Linked DNA regions of Homo sapiens: region 1 is linked to region 2. The links come from fine-mapping of genetic effects on gene expression. Tissue or cell type: whole blood. Region 2 holds a variant in brackets; the other region holds the start of a gene. Each region is shown on its reference strand, or each on the opposite one.

Region 1 (4,355 bases), not on the chromosome of region 2:
ACACCTCCCTGGGGTTGACAGTGTCTCAAAAGCATGTCATCCATTCATGCAATTAGTATCTGAGTGCCTACTACCTGCCAAGGAATTGTGCCAGGTCCCGAGAACACAGAAATAAAGTTTTTGACCGCAAGAAGAACTAAGATAGGGGAACCCAAAACATCAGTTCGTCACTAGATTCCCCAACAGTTTCAACTGGCTCTCTGGCCATCTGAGAAAAACGATGAAAGAAACATCCCACTCCATCAGGGCATCATAAAACCACCCTGTCAATCCAAAACTTTGTCTCCAAATCCATCAGCCTCCATCTCTTATCTTACACCCTCACTGACCAAGTCATCCAAGCATTAGCATGAGCTTGAAATACAACATCTGAGGCTTCAAGCAGCAGGACAAGAAACTTCTAGAGGTAAAGGTAGACATCACAGTCCCGCCTCAAATGCAAACATCAGAGATGAGGGTGCTAGCTCAGATCCCCCTTCTACCCAGTTACTCATACAAATTGTCAGCCCTGCAAAGGAGTCCAAACATGTCAGTTACACTCCTACTTAAAGTTGGACCAAGAGGATCAGAAATGAGAGAATGGACTCAACTGGACGAGCCTTGCTTGAACAAGACCCCCGTGATCACCGTGCCCTCGAGGAAGGAACAGGGTAGCCCAGCAAGGGCCGGCTTACCTCCTTGAGAAGCCCTACTTTTTTCTTCAGCACCTCACATTTTCGCAGTTTGCAGATCTGGTGCGTGCGGCGGTTGGTACAGCTAGTGCAAGCGCCACAGTTTTCCAGCCGCCGGCAGGGCTCACAAGTACCACACCGTTTCCGTTTCTTTCGACCATCTCCACCCCCTCGGAGTTGGGACTCACTCCCAGCCATGGAGAGCCCAGACCCCGGGAAGCTCCCTACCATCACCTGGCGCTGAGGGAAGTCATAAAGGCCTGGCAGGTCCGGCTGGACGGCCAGGGGCACCTGAAACTGGCTCATGATGCTGCCAGAGGTGGGGTCATAGGTGCTGGGGCAGAACCACAGTCGTTTCCTGCCACCTCCAAAGGCCACCAACAGGTCCTTCTCGCCTAGAACAGTCAAGAGTCTACAAGGGTGAAGGCAAGTGGCTTCAGTCTCGTGGATGGATGCCTCTTCTCAACCCCTCTTCACCTCCTCTGCAGCAGTCTGATCGGACTCCGTAGGGGGCCACTCTCCCACCTGCTGGGGCCCAGGATCTGGGGGAGGACACCAGCAGCAGCCCTCAGAAAAGGGATCATCTTGGCCCGGTGGGTTCTTCACCCTCACCCACCCTGGACCCAGGCATGAGTTGAGCAGGTAGGGGTGTGGTGGGGGCAGAGCTGAGTGAGCAGTTTCTCCTGGTATTTTTCCTCCAGGGTCTGGACGCTGGAGAAGGCAGTGCTGCCTGAAAAAGACAGAAAGGGGAAGCGCATCACTCGGGGCTCAGGGACAACTTTCACGTGTCACTTCTTCCTGTTTCTGGGAAGAGAAAATGGGGGAAGAGATGGGGCTTGCTCAATTGAGGTCCTGCCCAGAACCTCAGGCAGGACGCACCCAGCACCCGCTCCCTGTCTGAGGGAGGCGGCCTCGGGCCTGAGGGCTGCTGGGGGCCCTGGATTCAAGGGGGTGATCAAGGTGAGATTTCTAAGAAAGTTGCCCTCTTCCCCACCCCCACGGGCTGGTGAGAGTTTCACCAAAATTCCCCCACACGCCCTGGCTGGAGGCCGCCGGGCCCTCCCTAGGGAGCTGAGCTTTCAAAATAAAGTTTGCTGAGAGCCTCGCTCGGCGGGACTGCCCCGGCGCCCCCGGCACGGAAGCCGCCTGGAGGTGGGGGCGCGCCCTGGGCAGCCCGCGCCCGCCGCGCCCGCCGCCGGAGCGCAGCCCGCCAGCCCGACTGGGGAGGGCGGCCCGCGCCGCCGAGGGGCGCGGGGAGGGGGGCGCGCTCGAGCCGCGGGCCGGGCCGCGCGCGCGCCGCCGCTCGGGCTCCTTTGTTCTGGGGCCTCCGCCACTCCGCTCCGGCGGCTTCGCAGCCCCCGCCCCCGCCCCGCCACCCCCGCCCGGCTCAGCCGCACAGCGCCCCGCAGCACCCCAGTCCGGCCCCCCGCACCGGAGGAGCGGCCCCCCGCCGGATCCGGGCCGTCCCCTCCCCCTCCCCCGGGCCGGGCCCCCCGCGCCTCCCGCCGCCCCTCCCCCACTCCGGAGCCGGAAAGGCACCGACTGCACCGACCTGCCCGCCGCCTCCGGGGCGGAGCGCACAAAGGGGCAAAGTTTCCCGGCCCGCGCCGCCGCCGCCACCACCGTCGCGGCCGCCGCCGCCGCCGCCTGGGGCTCCCGCCTCCCGGAGCGCCCGGCCCGACCGAGCTCAGCGCGCGGAGCCCCCCGCCCGGGCCGAGGAGGGGACGGCGCAGGAGGAAGGAAGAGGCAGCGGCGGCCGCGGCGGCAGCAGCAGCAGCAATGAAGGCGTCCGCGGGACTCCCCGCCCCCCGCGCACCGCGGCACGTGCTCGCCCGGGGACTCCCCCGCCCGGGAGGGCGCACACGTGCGGCCCCGCCGAGCCCCGCCGGCCCGGCCGGGCCCCGGGCCGGGCGAGAGGGGGGTGGTTCCCGCGGAGGGGAGGGGTCGGGTGGGCGGCCTGCGAGCGGCTTGGGGCAGGCTCCGGCCCGGCCGCCGCTTCTCTGCACCTGCAGTGGCTCCCACCCACGCGGTCGGCCCTCCCGGGAGGCGGCCGCCCCCTTCGGGTTGGCCACCCTCGCCCTCCGGCGGGGCTGCAGCCGGGGCCGGCGAGGCGGGGTGGGGCACGCGGACCTTCCAGCCTAGGCCCTCGGCCGAGCCTCGCTCGGTGTCCCCACTTCCTGCCACTCCCTGCGGGCCAGATCTGTCCGGGACAGCCCCGGCGCCCCCGGGAGGCCTGAGCGCCGGGCCCGACTGACCCCCCTGTCCCAGCTGCCGCTGGCTCATTCCGAGGCAGGACAATGGGGGACATCGCGCGTTTGCGTACCGAGTCAGCCTGGCCGGCAAGAAGGGGTTGCTCGGGGGCAGAGGCTAAGGGCACCCTCGCAGGGGTCACGGCCGAATGCCCTGTCCAGGTGGACCCCACGGCCCTGCCATCACCAGCCTCCCCCGCGCCGCGCTCGATTCTTTCGCGTCGAAAACAAAGACTAATCCGATACCCCCGCCCTGCCTCCCAGAGGAGGGGGAACGGGCGCGTCGCGGAGGGTAACTGAGGAGGACAGCGTTCAGGAGGGCCTCGGACAGCCTCGAGGGGGCCGTGGGGCGACTAAGCCCTAAAACCCGGCGCAGACACTTTGAAGAGTCACCCTGGGCTACGTTCCAGGCAGGGGGTAAGGGGCAGGGCTCAGGAATATTTCCAAGTTGCCAAACTGCCCGTTCTCTCTGCTGCTTTTTTCCCTCACCTGTTGTGCAGGCCAAGTTGAAATTCCAGGTTAGATTAATTCAGCCCCACCCATCTGGCCTGACTGCCAGGCTGGTGCCTGCAACTGCCTTCCACCTACCTCGGTTGCAGGGGAGCAGGGTGGGTCTCTGACATACACGCGCACACACACACTCGGGCGAGTCCTGGCAGAAACAGCCACAGGACGGACTGGCCTGACCAGTTTGGGCGGTGCTCACGGAGCCAGGTACCTGGCAGGCGTCGCCGCCCGGCTGCAGCTAACAGCTTAGCCAGAACTGGAAAAAGAGCATTCGGCCGGCTATTTAGAAAGAAAGAAAAAAAAGTAACTGATCTGAAGTAGCGCTGTCCAGAAAGCCCTAGGCGGTAAAGCAGCCCGGGTTCTATCTGGAACTTCCCTCTGATTTTGACAGCCTGCTCCAGGGTCCAGGTTGTCAGCGAGGGAGTGGGTGGGGGTGAACATGGCTGCAATATCCACTTCCTACCATGGCCTTTGGGAGGACTGAAGAGTTTCTGTTCAGGGTAGTAAGACTAGAACCGAGACGAAAAACCAAGAGAGTGCAATTTTCAAACAGGGGAACAGGTTGCAGACTCGTAATTGTTTTTAATGTAATATATTTTTAATAAGCAACTTTATTAATAAAAAATGTGTATAAAGAAGACGTGGAGACTACAGATACTAGAGGGGAAAAATCACCAAATTACAACCATATTTAACCATTTGCTATATTTCCTTGTAGCCTTTCCTATTTGTGGATTTACTCACACTGATTATACAATTTGCCATCCTCTTTTAACTTAACATTGTACCATAGGCATTTCCCTGTTTGGTATACAGTTTTCAGAAAGTGTGACAGTGAGGTGAAGAAGATGGCTCAGGAGCCAGAGAACTCTGGCTTCCAAACCTGAATCTGCCACTTGGTAACAGTGTGACCTTGGACTAGGTACTC
Region 2 (4,379 bases):
ATCTTGTATTTTATTTGAGTCAGCTGTGTTTTCACAACAACTCTGAGAGTTAACATCATTTCTACTTTATAAATTAAAAAAACAAAACAAAAACAAAAAACTAAAGCCCCAAAAGGATTGAATAGCTTGCCAAGGCTGTGTAACAAGTGAAATTTGAATCCGGGTCTGTATGATCCCAAAGCTTAAGCTGCCCGTCTTTCTATTCCCAGTTCAAACGTGCCTTGAAATGGGAGCTCACTTGATAGTACTTGGCTTTTAAAAGGCTACGTACATGTAAGTACCTTCACTCAAATATGCTGGGGCTCAGTAGGAGAAGCAAAGAGAAGGAAAAGGTATTGATTGATCGATTTGATTCTAAGCAGAGATTGACAGAGATAAGCTTCTAAGACCTTTCAGGCCCCAGAGTGTGACTGTTGAGCACCTAAGAAGACCTCACTTGACCCGTGACTTCCCGCCAGAGCCTTGGGAAGCCCATGAGTGCAGCGTGCTCGCCGGCTGGGCTGGAACTTGCTGCTCTTCTCTGCAGTGGCAGGCTGGCTTCTGCCCCTAGACTGGAACTGCCAAGGGCTGCTATAGAAGGGACAAACTTCCAGTGCTCACTGAGGAGCCAGGGGTATCCTGGGAAGCTGAAAATGCATTTGTCAAGCTCAGGTCTTCACAATTGAGAAACCCCATCACTAACCCGTACGGTTTTCTTGACCAAAACTTTCAGTGCTCTGTTTTTCCCATCTGTAAATAATGTTCATACATCTAAATCCTAGGAGGTTGCAGGGACAGTGGCTTAGAAAGTCACCACATTCTCTAAAGGAGTGACAGAGAGGATGAAAGAAGCATGCTCTATAATTAGGTTTTATTACATGCTTTTTAAGGTTAATTGAAGGACTTCCCAGCAGCTTCCCTAGCCACTTTTTCAAATACTGAAAGCTTCCAGAAAGCAGCAGACAGGTGTTCCTCACAATCTGACACAGACTTCAGTTACTGTTGAAAAGTGAAAGAGGGCTGGGCGCGGTGGCTCACACCTATAATCCCAACACTTTGGGAGGCCGAGGTGGGCGGATCACCTGAGGTCAGGAGGTCAAGACCAGCGTGGCCAACATGGCAAAACCCCATCTCTACTAAAAATACAAAAATTAGCTGGGTGTAGTGGCACACGCCTAAAACTCCAGCTACTTGGGAGGCTGAGGCATGAGAAAAAATCGCTCGAACCCAGGAGGCGGAGGTTACAATGAGTCAAGATCATGCCACTGCACTCCAGCCTGGGTGACAGAGTGAGACTATCTCACAAAAAAAAAAAAAAAAAGAAAAAAATGAAAGAGCTCCTGTCTGACGTTGGTTTTCTATACCCATTTTTATAATCAGACAATTTTGGAAACATGCTATTATGATAGTGTTTAAATATTCCAGAATTCTGTGTGTTCGGTAGCTTCACGTTGGTTTGATTGTTGTTTTACCCCACTGCCTCTTCCTTCCCATCTGTACTTCTCAGCTTGATTTTTTAGATGTATTTTCTGTTGTAGGACAGTATCAAATGGCTTTTTCTGACCATTTATTTTACTGGCCGAGCTCCTCTTGGATTTTAATCTCAACTCTCAAGAATCTTCCCAACATAATCTGTTCCTGTTGTGATATCATCTTTCTTGAGAGCTTCCCAGTCACTGAAGAGCATGTTCAGTAGCACCTGGCTTAAAGAGTCCACCTGCGAATCACAAATCATTGTCTTCACCATTCAGCTCCGACCCACACATCTGGGCAACATCATCCCCACTGGCCAGTAAGCACGGGGAATGCTCTGTGGCCTCAGCTGTGTTCTGGTTCCTCGGTGGAGCTGTAATCATTAACTTAGAAATTGCAATTGGTGGTAACTTAACAGAGCTTTCTTCATCAGACTGCTGAGTCATGCAGCCTCTTGCTGGGTAAAATGTGTCTTGAGATGTAATCCCCTATAAGGACACCCCCTTGGAGCCACTGTGAAGGCACTCCCAGCTTCCCTAGCAGGTCGCATCAGGGGGACGACTGAAGGATTTACTTGAACAATCAGTTTTCAGAAATGAAGACCCTACGACCTTGGCTTCCTCTCTTGTGATGCAGCTGAAAGATGCATTTCGTCTGTAAAGTTAGACCAGGTAGGAGAGAATGTGAGGTGGTTTCCATTCTTCTCAGTTGCCCTCCACCTGATTCTGAAGCCGTCACAGACCGTCCTTGCAGACCGGCGCTCCCCTCCACAAACCTTCTGCAGCCTGTACTGCTACAGCACGAGGCTGCAGAATCAGTTGTGAAAATAGAAGCCTTCTACCGTCTCCTGTGCGGGATCCTTGCCTGCCTTTCTTCTGTGATGGGATCTATAGGCTTAGACTGTGTTTTATTTCCTAAGACACCTTGCTGAGCAAACCTTGCTGCTCTGCCTCGTGTCAGCGGTTTCCTTAGCAACGGCCACACCTCACGTTTTCTCCCGCACAGAGCACCAGCATGAGGGGGCATGTGTTGCTCACTGTACAGGAACTTTCCCAACCTGTGTGTCTTAAGCAGGAAAGAGAAGGTGCTTTCTATTTC[T/C]TGTTTTTAAAAATGCATCTGTTGGTGACACTGGTGGAGAAACATGTTTACGAGAAAACAACTGACTTTTTCTTCTGCTGTTACTCCAGGAGATTTCCTAGGAGCTCATACTGTCATTTAAATTCCAGGTGCAGGTCTTCTGAACAAATGCCTCCTGAGGATTTCTGTGCCTGGAAAATATCTGTTAACAGACTGCTTTTACACCTACGTAAGTAGAGGCTTCTGCTTATAAGTCAACCTCAAGGGAGTTTTATTTTGTCCCTGGATGATTCCTCAGTACATTTTTCTTTTTCTTTTTTGAGGTAGGGTTTTGCTCTGTTGCCCAGGCTGGAGTACAGTGGTGTGATCACAACTCACTGCGGCCTCAACCTCCCAGGCTCAAGCGATCCTCCCACCTCAGCCTCCCAAGTAGCTGGGACCACAGGCGTGTACCACCCACGCCTGGCTAGTTTTTTAAAATTTCTTTTGTAGAGGCAGAGTCTCCCTGTGTTGCCCTGGTTTCAAACTTGGGCCAAGTGATTCTCTGCCCCAGCCTCTCAAAGTGCTGGGATTACAGGTGTGAGCCACCGTGCCTGACAAGCCTGATATGTTTTTTTAAATGATCATTAGTATTTGATCTCTACTCTTTTTCTCTCAACCACCCAACTCCCGGTTTACGGTCAGGAAGAATCTATAACATGAACTCCTGCTTAAAAACAAGGGTATAGATCCCATATTCAGGTCTTAGACTGGGAAGAAGAGAAGGCAGTCAAAAATATTAAATATATGAATTTCAGTAAATTCAGTTGGGGATGCCATTTCAGCTTTGCAGTCAGTTACTCCAGAATATGTCAATGTATGGCAAAGCATGTGACAGCAGGATCTCTGCACCCTCTCCATTTACCAGCTGTGGTGGATCTCTTAGCCACATCTCTGTTTATAATGTGCTTATTGAAAACTAATGTATTACTTTTATTATCATAGCTACCATTTACTGAATATTTACATTGTGCTAACACTGGTTCAGATGGCTTCATCATATTTACCTGATTTAATCCTCACAACAACCTTATGTGCTAGGTCCAGTTATTACCATCTTTTTTTTTTTTTGAGACGGAGTCTCACTCTGTCGCCAGGCTGGAGTGCAGTGGCGCGATTTCGTCTCACTGCTGCAACCTCCGCCTCCCAGGTTCAAGTGATTCTCCTGCCTCAGCCTCCCAGGTAGCTGGGACTACAGGCACATGCCACCACGCCCAGCTAATTTTTGTATTTTTATAGAGACGAGACTTCACCATGTTGGCCAGGATGATCTCAATCTCTTGACCTCGTGATCCGCCCATCACAGCCTCCAAAAGTGCTGGGATTACAGGCGTGAGCCACCGCACCCGGCCTATTACCCTCATTTTACAGATGAGGAGACTGAGGCACAGAGAGTTAAAGTGATTTGTGCAGGGTTGTGTGAGGAGCTGGTGGCAGAGCTTGGCATTCTGGCTCTGGAGTCTGCATTTGGCCATCTCACCGTACAGTGTCATAGAAACAGGAAACTCGAGAAGATAAACTGCCAGGCTGTATTTTGGAGTCAGTATTTTAACACTGTCACCATCTCAAGCATGATCTGTGGGACTCATCACTGTGCTCTTTGACTTGAACTTCTTTAAGGTTAGTGGGAAAATGAAGCTTTAGAGAAGATGGGACTGGCCTAAGGTCACACTGCATGTCAGAAGTGTGGTGGAGGGTCCAGGTCTTCTGACCATTCAGTGCAAGCCAAATTGTGCTAATTTCCAATTTTTCTCCCTTTCTCTTGGTGAGCTATTTGGTGCTACTTCTACTCCTCATGACCAAAGCTGGCT

The links. PIP is the estimated chance that this variant, and not a neighbour inherited with it, causes the effect.
Region 1: it holds the start of TET3, and the variant in region 2 is the best candidate, but not a certain one, in a credible set for the expression of TET3 in whole blood (TOPMed, PIP 0.52).

The regions. Positions count from the first base shown.
Region 1 is chr2:73,983,026-73,987,380 of GRCh38, reverse strand. TET3 (tet methylcytosine dioxygenase 3) reads right to left here and starts at 2,471. Exons shown (of 12, transcript NM_001287491.2): 1 at 2,224-2,471; 2 at 675-1,401. The coding sequence starts at 977. RefSeq lists enhancers at 1,049-1,278, 3,172-4,095 and silencers at 1,759-1,928, 2,352-2,550, 2,309-2,998.
Region 2 is chr7:130,882,696-130,887,074 of GRCh38, reverse strand. LINC-PINT (long intergenic non-protein coding RNA, p53 induced transcript) reads left to right here. Exons shown (of 8, transcript NR_170176.1): 7 at 2,679-2,758; 8 at 4,339-4,379. Among named protein-coding and RNA genes, the nearest start is that of MIR29B1, 7.3 kb to the right of the region's middle. RefSeq lists an enhancer at 1-598. The variant T/C (reference allele first, on the strand shown) is at 2,551.